Regions from separate parts of the Homo sapiens genome. Here region 1 is linked to region 2. Evidence: fine-mapped QTL for protein levels in blood plasma. Region 2 holds a variant in brackets. A gene starts in the other region. All regions are shown on their reverse strands.

What was found. PIP is the chance, under the fine-mapping model, that this variant and not a neighbour inherited with it causes the effect. The UK Biobank Pharma Proteomics Project read protein levels with antibody pairs (Olink). The fine-mapping took linkage between variants from a reference panel, not from the people measured, so its PIPs are less certain.
Region 1: it holds the start of HBEGF, and the variant in region 2 is fine-mapped to the plasma level of the HBEGF protein (UK Biobank, PIP above 0.99).

The regions. Positions count from the first base shown.
Region 1 is chr5:140,343,013-140,351,124 of GRCh38, reverse strand. HBEGF (heparin binding EGF like growth factor) reads left to right here and starts at 4,522. Exons shown (of 6, transcript NM_001945.3): 1 at 4,522-4,842; 2 at 5,041-5,214. The coding sequence starts at 4,797. RefSeq lists silencers at 4,238-4,287, 4,328-4,607.
Region 2 is chrX:67,069,369-67,077,480 of GRCh38, reverse strand. No RefSeq gene overlaps it. Among named protein-coding and RNA genes, the nearest start is that of EDA2R, 430 kb to the right of the region's middle. The variant T/C (reference allele first, on the strand shown) is at 3,683.

The DNA of each region.
Region 1 (8,112 bases), not on the chromosome of region 2:
TTTTCACTTGAGGAATCTGAGGCTTGAAGAGAGAGATGGGTGTGTAATGAGGGAGGAATCACTTTCTCTCTGTGCTGGCCAACACAGAGGGGATGGCTGTAGGGGCAAAGTCCTTGGTCTGGAGATGTTAATCATTCAAAGTCACAAAAATGGGACCAGAAATAGAGAAGGATGGTTTGGGATCCAGCACATTATAAATATTCCTTCCTCAACATCTTCTGGAGATGACAGGGATTCCTGAAACCCCCTCACCTCCAAAAGCCTCCCCCTATCTCATCCATTCCTATCCTTCATCCTATTCAAATAGATCCTAGCCCCAAACAATCAGACAGCAGAGCCTGTTCATCCCTGAATATGCATGAAGCACGCTACTTCCAGGTGCCCAGCCAGCATAAGAAGGTACACGGGGGCTCCAAAGGGCAGGCCTGAATTCTAATCTAATCCAGCTGTATGCCCAAACTGTTTGATTAACTGTCTCAGATGGGGTGAGAGAAGCCAGCCTGGGCCAAGAAGCAATGACCCCTCATCCTGACATTCCAAGTTTGGGTAACTCTGGGCTCATGGTCAGACCTACCCTTAATGGAGGTGCCCTTCTTTACCCCTCTCCCCAACGCAGCAGAGTTCAAGGGCTGTGCAGGATTCACTTCTGGTCAGAGGGGAATGAGAAGGCAGCTGAATCCTCTCCCCCAGGGGGCACAGCTTCCCTCTGACCTCTGAGCCTGAGTTGCTTTTTTGGGTTGAGGTTTCCAAAACTCTGGGTGGCCTTGCAGATCTAGCATCTCTTTGATAAGCATGGCCATCTCCCAGAAAGGAACACTTCATCTCTGAGGATGGCTAGCTCATGATAAACCAACATTTTATTCAAGTTCCCACTTAAAAAGAAAAAGGAAAGAAAGCAAGAAAAAAATTTGGTCATAATAACCGCTGTCATTGAGTAAGTACCTACTATGTGCCAGGCATCATATTCCGCTTTATACACATGATCTGACTGAATCATCACAAAAGCCCTATAATAATAACTACTATTATTGTCCCCACTTTTCAGGTGAGCAAACTGTAGGTAAGAGAAATTGAATAACATGTTCAAAGTTAGAAAGAAAAAAAAACCAACAAAATTTGAACCCCCAAGTATCTGACTCCCAAGACTGTATCCATTTCATTAGCTGCCCTGCTGTGCTTACCTAAGCATCCTTCCAGTCTAGTGAGCCAGAGTTTCTTATTATCCCTCAGAACAGATGAAGGACTGAAACTCAGTAAAACTGATAATGTTACCCTCCACAGAAGCATAGAGATGGCGGCTGTCGTCTCATCCATTTGAGTGTTGAGCTTAGGAGAGCACAAGCCCAAGTGAACGAGGGGGTTTCAAATTGAGGCTGAGACACTCACTAGCTGGGTGACCTTGGGATGTTACCTTTTAAAGCTTCAATCCTTTAAAATGCAGATGATGATAACAGTGTCTAGTTTGGGGGATGTTGTGAGGATCAAGCAAGATAATGCATGTGCAGTGTTGATTACAGGGGAATTGTCACCACTAGCACCGCTTTCTTCCAGGTCCTCCCCACTGGGGAGCAAGTGCTCTCTCCAAATCAAGAACTCTGGCCTAGCAGTGAGTCAGCAGCACTCAGAGTCCCATGGAGCCTGCCTTTCCAGAGGCCCAGGAAACTCGCATGGGCTGGGAAGCAGGATGCCAGGGTTTCTGCTCTGCACTTGCCCCCTTCTGACTCACTGGTGGCCCAGGGCTAATCAGTCTCCAAGCCTCAGTTTGCTCATGGTCAATAGACAGTCAATAAAAGCAGGCTTGTCTGTCTGAACTCTACTTCCTTAGGACTATGTTCCTGGCATTTGACAACCTGACATCCAGAGAGCAGGTGGGGGAGACCTGAGCAGGAGGAGGGGACAATATGGAGGAATCCTGCATGACAGTGCTGTCTCATTGACATCTCATATGATTCTGACAATAATGGGGCATAAAATCCAGTGTCTACCTTGGCTTATAACGTCCTCTTTTATCTGTTGCTAGCCTTTGTTCCAATATCATCCCATATCTCTCCTTTTTTGGCCCTCTTGCTTTTCCTTGAATGCTCCCAACTTTTTTCCATTTCAGAGTCTTTGCACTATTTGCACATCTTGGAATGCTTTTGTCATAGATGATCCCAAATCTGATTTCTTCTTCTCATTCAGGCCTCAGCTTACATGTCACCTGCTCAGAGAAGGCTTTGCTAATCAGTTTAAAGTGTCATCCTGGGCACTGGAACATATTATCCTACAGCACATCATTGTATTTTAACTTTCATCTTAGCAGTTATCACTATAGGATATGTTTTTCCTTGTTTATTTCCTTAATGTGCTGCCTGTCTACTATAGAATATAAGCTCTGTGAAAGCAGGTCCTGGGCTGTCTTATTTATTTCTATGTCCCCAGTGCCCCCCAAAAATGTTCAGTTAATGTTTATGATATAATTGAGTTAATGAGATTGCCTCAGCATGAATTGTGATTCCTTTTCTTTGCTCAGAGACATCCAAGATTCTGAGAGGGGAAGTGACTGTCCCAAATCCAATTCAAGCTTTTTATCTTCTTTTTTCAGGCCCTTCCTGTAAAACCTGGCTGACACACAAACCTAGCTGGGGTGAGGCTCCAGGTGTGATGAAAGTTTGGAGTTGCCCCATGAATGGGACTGAGGCTGATGTGGGGGTGAGAAGGCGGAAGGACAGAGCATGTGAAGGGAGAAAGGCAGGCTGGGGCAAGAGAGCAGGGTGTGACTCTGGCGAGGGTGGGGGAAAGGGGGTGATTTGACCATGTGTCAGGAAGTGTTTCTCTCCACCCTCCCCTGGGGAGAGCCTTGACCCCAAGGTGGCTTTGTTTTGGGGAAGCAGGTGGCCAGGCAGCTGCTGAGGGAGGGCAAAGTCATGGCTTGGGCGGTGACCATGCACTGAGGTCCTAGGCCCGATACTCATCACCCAAAAGGATAATCTAACAGTGGCTCTTAGCCAAATAGGTGACAGGTGAGCTTCTGTCTGAAACCAGCCCAACTATATCATAAAGCCTCAGATATGGCCTAGGGGAAGGCAAGCGATCTAGAGAAGTGAGAGAAAAGAGGCCTCTAAGGAAATAGAGTGGTCAAGTGCTTAGTGATTATTATTAACAGCAACAATAATAATGGGTCACATTTATTGAGAGCTTATAGTGTGCCTGGCACTATACTAACTACTTTTATGTGTTCCCGCATTCATTTCTCAAAAAGCTCCCTACAAAGTAGTCATTATTATTATTGTTATTATTTTTTCCATTTGAGAGACGTCAAAACTGAGGCTCAGTGAAATTAAGTTTCTTGTCCAAGGTCACACAGTAAGTAGCAAAGGCAGGATTCAAACTCAGGTCTGTAGTGATTCCAGTGCACTATGGAAACCTAGGCCTAGGTTACTGGAGCAAGTTAAGAGGGCAGGGCCAGACTGACCCCTGCAAAGGTGGGGATAGGGAGGGACAGTGGGATAGACTGTGTATAAATAGCAGGCCTGTTTTTATCCCTACACACAGGCAGAATCCGGCAAGTGCTCTATCTGGCACAATTTCAGGGCTCTGAAAGCCAACCCAGCCCTGTGTCAAACAACTCTCTCCCCAGCACGTCCCTGGAAACTGAAATACCTACTGAGACACTCATTTCTTTGGGTCAGGACAGTGACTCCAGAAGACCCCTGCAAAAGCACATGGGTTGGAAGAGAAACACCTAGTGTCTGTGAAACAGCAATCTAGGTTAGCCAGCTGGGTCCTATGGGAGGGTGGCTCATTTTTTATGTTGAGGAAAAAGGTGGCAGTCAAAGGCAAGGAAAAGAATAAGGCTTGTTTCACAACCTGTGTCTCTCCAATCTCAGAAGCCTGGGAATTACAACCCATAGTTCAAAAATCCTAATGTCCCCTGAGGGAAGATGGGAGGAAGCCACTCCAGAGACTAAGAGAGTACTAACTTCCTTTGCTTTTGCTGGATTGATACTAAGTGCCTGCAACTTCAACTCTGGTTATCTCGGGTTTATGAGAACGGCTGGCATTCACGTGTCTAATTTTTAAATGATAGATGAATTAATTATTATTTGATACTTGCCGTGTTGGTAGGCCAAAAGGTGGGCTTCTGAAACTTAGAGGGTGACAGGGATGGAGACCCCTGGTATGGGGCTTAGATGAAGCAAGAGGCCAGGCCCGGAACAGAACTCAGCTCAGCAGTCAGTCACAAGGCTGCAGAGTGACAGGCGTTTGGGGAAAGGTAGGAACCGCTCTCCGCCACCTGCCGGTCAGTAGCCCTACCCACAATCAGGCCGCGGCTGCCTCGGCCTGGTCCCAAAAATTGTGAACGCCGCCCTCTCCTCCCGCCCAGTCCTCCGCCGCGCCCGCGGGGTCGGGGGCTGCGCTGCCGGCGCCGCGAGCCGGGCGAGCTTCCCAGCACGGGAGGAGGGAGGGGGCGGCGCCGGGCGGGGCGGAGCTTCCGCGCCTCCTGGAGCCTTATTCCCGGCCGCGAGCCGGGCAGCGCTCATTCGGCCGAAGGAGCTACGCGGGCCACGCTGCTGGCTGGCCTGACCTAGGCGCGCGGGGTCGGGCGGCCGCGCGGGCGGGCTGAGTGAGCAAGACAAGACACTCAAGAAGAGCGAGCTGCGCCTGGGTCCCGGCCAGGCTTGCACGCAGAGGCGGGCGGCAGACGGTGCCCGGCGGAATCTCCTGAGCTCCGCCGCCCAGCTCTGGTGCCAGCGCCCAGTGGCCGCCGCTTCGAAAGTGACTGGTGCCTCGCCGCCTCCTCTCGGTGCGGGACCATGAAGCTGCTGCCGTCGGTGGTGCTGAAGCTCTTTCTGGCTGCAGGTAAGAGGGCTGCCGACGCCCCCGGAGATCGGGGGGATGGGGGCGTTGTGCTGGGGGCATGGGGGAAGGTCGCCGCAGCGCACCCGGCACGGGCCACTTGGTGGGGCCCTTGCGCTCTGGCGGACGGGCGTCGGCATCGGTGCGTGTTGGTCAGGGGTCTGGGCGGGTGTCTGATGCGGCCTGGCCTCTCGCCCGCAGTTCTCTCGGCACTGGTGACTGGCGAGAGCCTGGAGCGGCTTCGGAGAGGGCTAGCTGCTGGAACCAGCAACCCGGACCCTCCCACTGTATCCACGGACCAGCTGCTACCCCTAGGAGGCGGCCGGGACCGGAAAGTCCGTGACTTGCAAGAGGCAGATCTGGACCTTTTGAGAGGTGGGTGTGGAGGCCCCCCATCCTTGGACCTTGGTGGGCTGTTGAAGAATAAGCAGATCCAAGATTCTTGCTGTTTGGGCAATACTGTGGGTTGAGGGTATTCATGGAGAACCTCGGGGAAAAGCTGATCGGCCTGATGGGCACTGGGGGATCCTGGAATATAGGTCCCACTCTCTCTCTCTTGTCATTGCCTCACCTGCTGGGTTGCTGCCCTTCTGGGTACTCCGGGGCAAATTGAATCAGACGTGTTGTCTGGGGTTGTTACGTTCTTCTTAGGTAAGCTGGGTGATAGGAACAAGGAATGGTTGAGATGCTTTCCCTAGAGCTACTATGTAAAAATGGGCGCCAGTTCTAATTCCCATATCAAATGACTATTATATATAAAATAGAGGTAACACATGCGGAGATGCCCAGGCACATCTCTAGAAAGTGTGCAGTGTTGGCCTCCTCCATCCACCTGTCTCCAGATTGGGGAAACAGAGGGGAATGAGGAGCTCTTGGCCGCCCTAGATGAGGCTGTGAATGGTGAGCACTGAGCCCCTAGGGGGCTGTATTAAAATGCTGGATATCTGTGAATGCTACCGGAAACCTGCAGCTTACTGAGCACCTTGCATTCCTGAGGAGACTCCAAATGGGGAGGGCTGTGTAGGATCCTCCAACCAGCCTCTTTGGCTGTGGCCAAGTACAGGTACAGGGCAGAGTCCAGAGCCTGCCAGCTCTCCTGCCTCCAAACCTGAGGAGATTATCCAGAGTAGAGCAAGGACTCAGCACTGTACCCTGGAATGACTATATTTGGTTGGACAGATGCCCACCTGTTCTAGTTCCACCTGCTCCTCAGCTGCCCTTCTCCCTCATTCCCAGGAGCTTTCCTTGGATACTCTCTCTACTTTGTATAAATCAAGCACATACTCCAAAACTGAGCCTGGGCTCCCATACTTCATCCTCTCCCAGTGGCCCTCTGGGGTTGCCCATGACCTGAACAGCCTGGATTCTCCTGGCCCTCTCCTCCTAGGCTGGGCAGGGCTGGGCTGTGACTCACCCCACCCCCACCCCCCACCCACACGGCTGCTCCTCTTACCTCTGCAGACCTGACTCACTGCTCCCTGTCCATGGCAGGAGCCTGGCTGTCACCCTGCACCTTCTCCCTCCCCTTTCTGATTGGCTTGGCCCCCCTGCCTTGCTCTCCCCGAAGCTCTGGTCACTGGGTTCCTCTGACCACCTGTATCACCTTCTGAGCTCTGAGGGGGCCTGGGACTGGATGAGAGGAAATGAAAGACTGTGGGGGCTGCTGGCACCTACTTCTCTTCCCTTCTTTTGGCTTTGCTGGGCAAGGACTATTTTTCAGGTCTGGGGATCCTACCACCTAAAATAAATGACTGCTACCATTTATTAAATTCCTACTGTGTTCTAGGCACTTGATATGTTATCCTGGCTAATGTAACACTTATAGCAACCTTTTGAGATAGTTACTTTGGCTATCCACATTTTACTGAGAACCTGAGGTTCAGAGGAGTTAAGTGACTGCCCACAGTAAATAGCTGAAATTGGAGCACAGGTCTATGGACTTCAGAGCCCATTCATGCCTGGATCAGCATCTCAGGTGCTCTAGACTTGTGAGAGGGAGGAGATGGGAGTGTGTGAGGCAGCTTGGTGTGGTGAGGAAGGACATTGGAGTGAAGTCCAGAGAACACAGTTCTAATCCCAATCCTGCATGACCTTGAGTAAGTCACTCTGCCTGCCATGAGTTTTTTCTTTTTTTCTTTTTTTTTTTTTTAAACATAGTCTCACTCTGTCACCCAGGCTGGAGTGCAATGGCACGATCTCAGCTCACTGCAATCTCTGCCTCCCAGGTTCAAGTGATTCTCCTGCCTCAGCCTCCTGAGTAGCTGCGATAACAGGCACACACCACCACGCCCGGCTAATTTTTGTATTTTTTGTAGAGATGAGATTTTTGCCATGTTGGCAAGGCTGGTCTCGAACTCCCGACCTCAGGTGATCCACCTGCCTCAGCCTCCCAAAGTGTTGGGATTACAGGCGTGAGCCACCGTGCCTGGCCACATGGTATTCTTTGAAGTCCCTCTAGCTTGAGACTCTAAGTCTCTAGTCTAACGTATCATGCTTACCCTTCTGTAAGACACATGGCTGTAGCCATGGATGTGGGCACCTTTTTCCTGATGGGGGATAAAAGGGTGGGATTGGGCTGATAGGCATAGTCCCTGGTCAATCCCAGCTGGATATCTGGGTGAGGCTGTTTTTCCCCCAGTCTCTCTGAAGCATGGAAAGAAGGAGGGAGTCATCATTGTTCCAGTTCCTTCTGGACAGTTCCTTACTTTCCATTTTTCTATCCCTTGTACACCCTGTACCCCCCAATCCAGAGAGCTATAAACAGGACATTGGGGGTTAAATATGAATGAATCTTTGAGAAAGTGGGTGAGCTGTAAAGGGTATGCAAGTTAAATATTTTGCTTGAAGTTGAAAAAGCAAGGCCGTGACCAGGGCTGGCCTGCTTGCTGTTCCTGAGCCAGGCTCTGCCCTGGGCTCATAGTACTAAGGGGTGCCCCAGAAGAGACCACCTGAACACATGGACACTGTTCTTATATTAGGAGCCCTCCAACCCCAGAACCTCCAAGTACCTTCTCTAGAAGCAATTTTTGTGTGTGACACTGTCTTTCTGCAAGTGGTTCACTGAGTACAGCATCAGGAAATGAGGCTGATTGAAGGCCAAAATAGAATGAAGTGGGTGTGGGGGAGTAGGAGATGGGGGTGTAAGGTGGACAGTGGGGTGGAGGTGAGGTTGGTAGAATTGCCCAGTTACTCAACAAAAGCATTCTGAGAATGAGGCTCTTACACAGAGACTGTGAAATGCCTTCCTTGGGACCCACCCTAGCTTCTACTTCC
Region 2 (8,112 bases):
TGGGATTGCTGGATCATATGGTAGTTCTATTTTTAGTTCTTTAAGGAATCTCCACACTGTTTACTGTTTTCCATAGTGGCTGTACTAGCTTATATTCCCACCACTTGTAGAAGTGTTCTCTGATCACCACATCCACACTGGCATCTACTGTTTTATAATTTTTTGATTATGGGCATTCTTCTGGGAGTAAGGTGGTATTGCATTGCATTTTTTATTTGCATTTCCTTGATCATTAGTGATGTTGAGCATTTTTTCATATGCTTATTGGCTATTGTAATTTTTTTTGAGAATTGTCTGTTCAGGTTCTTAGCCCACTTTTTGATGGGATTGTTTGTTTTTCTTATGAATTTTTTTAAGTTCATTGTAGATTTTGGATATTAGTCCTTTGTCAGAAGTATAGCTTGTGAAAACTTTTTCCCCCTCTGTGGGTTTCCTGTTTAGTCTGCTGACTGTTCGTTTTGTTGTGAGAAAGCTCTTTTATTTAATTAGGTCCCAGCTATTTATGGTTTTTGTTTGTTTTCTGTTGCATTTGCTTTTGGGTGTTTGGTCATGAAATTCTCACCTAAGCCAATGTCTAGAAGGGTTTTTGCAATGTTATCTTTTAGAATTTTTATAGTTTCAGGTCTTAGGTTTAAGTCCTTAATCCGTCTTGAGTTGAGTTTTATATAAGTTGAGAGATGATGATGCAATTTCATTCTCCTACATGTAACTAGCCAATTATCTCAGCATTATGTTGAAAAGGGTGTCCTTTCCCCACTTTATGTTTTTTGTTTGATTTCTCAGAGATCAGTTGGCTGTAAATATTTGGGTTAATTTCTGGGTTCTCTATTCTGTTCCATTGTTCTATGTGCCTATTTTTATACAAGTACCATGCTGTTTTTGTGACTATGGCTTTATAGTATAGTTTAAATTCAGGTAGTTTGATGCCTCCAGATTTGTTCCATTTTTGCTTAGTCTTCCTTTGGCTATGTGGACTCTTTTTTGGTTCCATACGAAGTTTGGTATTGTTTTTTTTTCTAATTATGTGAAGAATAATGGGTGGTATTTTTATGGGGATTACATTAAATTTGCAGATTGCTTTTGGTAGTATGGTCATTTTCACAATATTGATTCTACCCATCCATGAGCATGGGATGTGTTTCTATTTGTTTGTGTCATCTATGATTTCTTTCTGCAGTGTTTTGTAGTTTTCCTTGTAGAGTTCTTTTGATTCCTTGGTTAGGTATAATCTTAAGTTTTCTTTTCTTTTCTTTTTCTTTCCTTTTTTTTTTTTTTTGCTGCTATGGTGAAAGGGGTTGAGTTTTTGATTTGATTCTCCACTTGGTCACTGTTGGTGTATAGAAGAGCTACTGATTTGTGTACATGAACCTTGTATCTGAAAAGTTTGCTGAATTCTTTTATCAGTTCTAGGAGCTTTCTGAAGGAGTCTTTAGGATTTTCAAGGTAAACAATCATATTATCAATAAACAGTGACAATTTGACTTCTATTTACCAATTTGAATGCCCTTTATTTTTTTCTATTCTCAGATTACTCTGGCTAAGACTTCCAGTATTATGTTGAAGTTGAGTGGTGAGAATGGACATCCTTTTTTTGTTCCAGTTCTCAGAGGGAATGCTTTCTACATTTTCCCATTCAGTATTATCTTGGCTGTGGGTTTGTCAAAGATGACATTTACTACATTGAGATATGTCCCTTATATGCCAATTTTGCTGAGAGTCTTAATCATAAAGAGATGTTGAATTTTGTCAAATGCTTTTTCTTCATCTTATGAGATAATCATGTGAATTTTGTTTTTAATTCTGTTTATGTGGTGTATCACATTTATTGACTTGCATGTGTTAAACCATCCCTGCATGCCTGGTATGAAGCCCACTTGATCATGGATTATCTTTTTGATATGTTGTCGGATTCGGTTAGCTAGTATTTTGTTAAGGATTTTAGTATCTATGTTCATCAAGGATATCTGTCTGTAGTTTTCTTTTTTGGTTATGTCCTTTCCTGGTTTTGGTGTTAGGGTGATGCTGGCTTCATAGAATGAATTAGGGATAGTTCCTTGTTTCTCTATCTTGTGTAATAGTGTCAAAAAGTTTGGTACCAGTTCTTTGAATGTCCGGTAGAATTCAGCTATGAATTCATCTGGTCTTCAACTTCTTTTTCTGTTGATAATTTTGTAATTACCGTTTTAATCTCACTGCTTGTTATTGGTCTGTTCAGGATATCTAATTCTTCCTGATTTAAGCTAGGAGGGTTGTATTTTTCCATGAATTTATCTATCTCTTCTAGATTTTCTAGTTTATATGCATAAAGGTGTTCATAGTAGCCTTGAATGATCTTTTGTATTTCAGTGGCGTCAGTTGTAATATCTCCTTTTTTGTTTCTCAGTGAGGTTATTTGGATTTTCTCTCTTCTTTTCTTGGTTAATCTTGCTAAGGGTCTATAAATTTTATTTACCTTTTCAAAGAACCAGCTTTTTATCACATTTATCTTTTGTATTTTTTGTTTGTTTCTTTGTTTCAATTTTATTTATTTCTGCTCTGATCTTGGGTATTTCCTTTCTTCTCCTGGGTTTGGGTTTGGCTTGTTCTTGTTTCTCTAGATACTTGAGGTGTGACCTTAGAATATCAGTTTGTGATCATTCAGACTTTCTGATGTAGATGTTTAGGGCTGTGAACTTTCCTCTTAGAACTGCCTTTGCTGTATCCCAGAGGTTTTGGTAGATTGTGTCATTATTGTCATTCAGTTCAAAGAAATGTTTAATTTCCATCTTGATTTCGTTTTTCACCCAAAGCTCATTCAGGAGCAGGTTATTTAATTTCCATGTATTTGCATGGTTTTTAAGGTTCTTTTTCTAGTTGACTTCCAGCTTTATACCATGGTGGTCTGAGAGAGTGCTTGATACAATTTAAATTCTCTTAAATTTATTGAGGCTCATTTTATGACCTGTCATATGGTCCACCTTGGAGAAAGTTCCATGTGATATTTAATAGAATGTGCATTCTGCAGTTTTTGGATGAAAAGTTCTGTATACACCTTTTAAGTTCATTTGTTCCAGGGTATACTTTACACCTGTTGTTTCTTTGTTGACTTTCTGTCACAATGATCTGTCTAGTGATGTCAGAGGAGCATTGAATTCCTCCACTATTATTGTGTTGCTGTCTATCTCATTCCTTAGGTCTATTAGTAATTGTTTTATAAATTTGGGAGCTCCAGTGTTAGGTGCATATACGTTTAGGATTGTGATATTTTCCTGTTCAACAAGGCTTTTTACCATTATGTAATGTCCTTCCTTGTCTCTTTTAGTTGCTGTTGCTCCAAAGTTTGTTTTTTCTGATATAAGCGCAGCAAACCCTGCTCACTTTTGGTGTCCATTTGCATGAAATGTCTTTTTCCATCCCTTTACTTTAAGTTTATGTGAGTCCTTATGTGTTAGGTGAGTCTCCTGAAGGCAAGAGATAGTTGGTTGGTTTCACCCAGCTATTAAGCCTAGTAACCATTAGTTGTTTTTCTTGATTCTCTCTGTCCTCCCACCCTCCACCCTCTGAAAAGCCTGTGTCTGTTGTTCCCCTCTATGTGTCCATGTGTTCTCATAATTTAGCTTGCACTTGTAAGTGAGAACATGCAGTAATTGGTTTTCTGTTCCTGTTTTTGTTTGCCAAGGATAAAGGCTTCCAGCTCCATCCA[T/C]GTCCCTACAAAGGACATAATCTCATTCTTTGTTATGGTTCCATAGTATTCCATGGTAAATATCTACCAATTTTTATCCATTCTATAATTGATGGGCAATTAGGTTGATTCCATGTCTTTGCTATTGTGCATGGTGCTGCAATGAACATACATATGCTTGTGTCTTTGCAATAGAATAATTTATATTCCTTTGGTTATATACCTAGTAATGGGATTTCTGGGTCAAATAATATTTCTGTGTTTGAGTCTTTGAGAAATATCCTCCCTGTCTTCCACAATGGTGGAAATAATTTACGCTCACACCAACAGTGTATAAGCATTCCTTTTTCTCCTCAACTTTGCCAGCATCTGTCATTTTTTTATTTAATAGTAGCCATTCTTACTGGTATGAGATGGTATCTCATTGTGGTTTTGATTTACACTTCTCTAATGATCAGTGGTGTTGAGCTTTTTAACATATAATTCTTGGCCATTTGTATGTCTTCTTTTGAAAAGTGTCTTTATGTCTTTTGCCCACTTTTAATTGGGTTAGTTTTTTTTCTTGTAAATTTGTTAAAGTTCCTTTTGGATGCTGTATATTAGACCTTTGTTAGATGCATAGCTTGCAAAAATTTTCTTTCATTCTGTAGGTTATCTGCTTACTCTGTTGATAGTTTCCTTTTCTGTGCAGAAGCTCTTTAGTTTAATTAGACTCCATTTGTCAATTTTTGCTTTTGTTGCCATTGCTTTTTGTGTCTTTGTCATAAAATGTTTGCCCATGCATATGTCATGAATAATATTCCCTAGTTGTCTGCAGAGTTTTTATAGTTTTGGGTTTTACATTTAAGTGTGTAATCCACACTGAGCTAATTTTTGTATATGGTGTAAGGAAGGGGTCCAGTTTCAATCTTCTGCTTATGGTTAGCTAGTTATCCCAGCATCACTTATTGAATAGGAATTCCATTCCCCATCGCTTGTTTTTGTCAGATTTGTTGAAGTCCAGATACTTGTAGATATGCAGTCTTATTTCTGGGTTCCCTATTCTGTTTCATTGGTCTATGTGTCTATTTTTTACCAGCACGATGCTGCTTTGTTTACTGTAGCCCAGTAGTATAGTTTGAAGTCAGGTAGCGTGATGCCTCCAGATTTGTTATTTTTGGCTATTTGAGCTCTTTTTTGGTTCCATATACATTTTTAAATCTTTTTTCTAGTTCTGTGATGAATTTCAATGGTAGTTTAATTGGGAATAGCACCAAATCTATATATTGATTTGACAAGTAAGGTAATTTTAATATTGATTCTTCCTATCCATTGACATGCAATGTCTTTCCATTTGTTTGTGTCATCTCTGATTTCTTTGAATAGTGATTTGTAGTTGTCCTTGTAGAGATCTTTCACCTCTCTAGTTCCCTGTATTCCCAGGTAGTTTATTCCTATTGTAGCAATTGTTAATAGGAGTTTATTCCTGATTTGGCCCTTGGCTTGACTATTGTTGTTGTATAGGAATGCTAGAAATTTTCCACATTGATTTTCTATTGTAAGACTTTTCTGAAGTTTTTTATCAGCTTAAGAAGCTTTTTGGCTGAGTTTATGAAATTTACTTGATATAGGATCATGTCATCTGCAAACAGGGATAGTTTAACTTCCTTTCTTTCTATTTGAATGTCTTTGCTTCTTTCTCTCGCCTGATTGCCCTGGCCAGAAATTCCAATAGGATTTTGAATAGAAGTGGTTAGAGAGGACATCCTTGTCTTGTGCCACTTTTTAAGGGGAATGCTTCTAGTTTTTCCCATTCATTATAACATTGATTGTGGGTCTGTAATAGATGGCTCTTATTATTTTGAGGCATGTTTCTTCAATACCTAGTTTATTGGGAGTTTTTAACATGAATGGATGTTGAAAATTTTCAAAAACCTTTTATATATCTATTGAGATAATCATGTGGTTTTTGTCTTTAGTTCGGTTTATGTGATGAATCACATTGATTGATTTGCATAAGGTTAACCAACCTTGCATCCCAGGAATAAAGCCTACTTGATCATGGTGGATAAGCTTTTTGATGTGCTGCTGGATTTGTTTTGCCAGTATTTTGTTGAGGAGTTTTGCATTGATGCTCATCAAGGATATTGGCCTGAAGTTTTCTATTTTTGTTGTACTGCTGCCAGGTTTTGGTGTCACGGTGATGCTGGCCTCATGGAATGAGCTTGGAAGAAATCCTTTCTCCTCAGTTTTTTTGGAATAGTTTAAATAGAAATGGTACCAGCTCTTCTTTGTACATCTGGAATAATTCATCTATAAATCCCTATGGTTCTGGGCATTTTCTTGGTTCATAGGCTATTTATTACCACCTCTATTTAAGAACTAATTATTTGTGTGTTCAGGAATTCCATTTCTTCCTGATTCATTCTTGGGAGGGTGTATGTGTCCAGGAATTTATCCATTTCTTCTATATTTTCTAGTTTACATGCATAGAGGTGTTCTTAATATTTTCTGATGGTTGTTTGTATTTCTGTGGGGTCAGTTGTAACATCTGCCTTAGCATTTCTGATTGCATTTACTTGAATCTTTTCTCTTTTCATTTTCATTGGTCTAGCTAATGATGTATTTTATTAATTTATTCACAGAATAGCTCCTGAATTTATTGATCTTTTGGTTGTTTCTTCACATCTCTGTCTCCTTCAGTTCAGCTCTGATTTTGGTTATTTCTTTGTCTTCTGCTGGCTTTGAGATTTGATTTCTTGATTCTTTAGTTCTTTTAGTTGTGATGATAGGTTGTTAACTTGAGATATTTCTAACTTTTTGATGTGGGTATTTAATGCTATAAATTTTCCTCTTAATACTGCATTACCTGTGTCCCAGAGATTCTAGTATATTGTATCTTTGCTCTCATTAGTTTCAAATAACTTCTTCATTTCTGCTTTAATTTCATTATTTACCCAAATGTCATACATGAGCAGATTATGCAATTTCCATATAATTGTATGATTTTGAGGGAATTTCTTAGTCTTGATTTCTAATTTGATTGTGCTGATATCCAAAATAGTGTTTGTTATAATTTTAGTTATTTTGCATTTGATAGGGAGTGTTTTACTCCTGATTATGTGATCAATTTTAGTGTACATGTCATATGGTGATAAGAAGTGTGTATATTCTGTTGGTTTAGGGTGGAGAGTTCTGTAGATATCTATCAGGTCCACCTGACTCAGTACTGAGTTTATGTCCTGAATGTTTCATTAATTTTCTGTCTCAGTGACATATTTAATATTGTCAGTGGGGTGTTAAAGTCTCCCAATATTATTGGGTGGGAGTCTAAGTCTCTCTGAAGGTCTCCAAAAACTTGCTTTGTGAATCTGGGTGCTCATTTGTTGGGTGTGTATATATTTAGGATAGTAAGATTGTCTCGTTTAATTGAGGGCTTTACCATTATGTAATGCACTTCTTTGTCTTTTTTAAAACGTTGTTGGTTTAAAGTCTGTTTTGTCAGCAATTGAGATTGCAACTTCTGTTTTTTGCTCTTTCCCGTTTGCTTGGTAGATTTTTCTCTTTACCTTTATTTTAAGCCTATGTGTGTCATTGCAAGTGAAATGGTTCTCTTGAAGACAGCATACCATTTGTTTTTTATTCTTTATCCACCTTGCCACCCTGTGTCTTTTAATTGGTGCATTTAGCCCATTTATGTTTGAGGTTATTATTGATATGTGTGGATTTGATCATGTCATCATGATGTTAGCTGGTTATTTTGCAGACTTGCTTATGTCATTGCTTTATAGAGTCACCGGTCTGTACTTCAGTGTGTTTTTGTAGTGGCTGATAATGTTCTTTCCATATTTAGTGCTTCCTTCTGAAGCTCTTGTAAGGCAGTTCTAGTGGTACCAAATTTCTGCATTTTTTTTTTTTTTTTTTTGTCTGAAAAGGATCTTATTTCTCCTTTACGTATGAAGCTTAGTTTGACTGGATATGATTTTCTGGGTTGGAATTTCTTAAGTATGTTGAATATTGGCCCCCAATCTCTTCTGGCTTGTAGGGTTTCTGCTGAGAAGTCCACTGTTAGTCTAATGGGCTTCTGTTTGTAGGTGACCCATCCTCTCTCTCTGGCTGCCTTTAACATTTTTTCTTTCATTTTGACCTTGGAGAATCTCATGATTATGTGTTTTGGAGATGATCCTCTTGTGAATTATCTTACTGATTTTCTCTAAATTTCCTGAATGTGAATCTTGGCACCTCTCGCTAGGTTGGGAAGTTTCTTATGGATGATATCCTGAAATATGTTTTTCAATTTGGTTCCATTCTCCCTACCTCTTTGAGGTACACCAATCACTTTTAGATTTGGTCTCTTTACATAATCTTGCATTTCTCAAAGAGCTTGTTTATTGCTTTTTATTCTTTTTCTCTATTCTTATCCACCTGTCTTATTTCAGAAATCCAGTTTTTGAGCTCTGAAATTGTTTTCT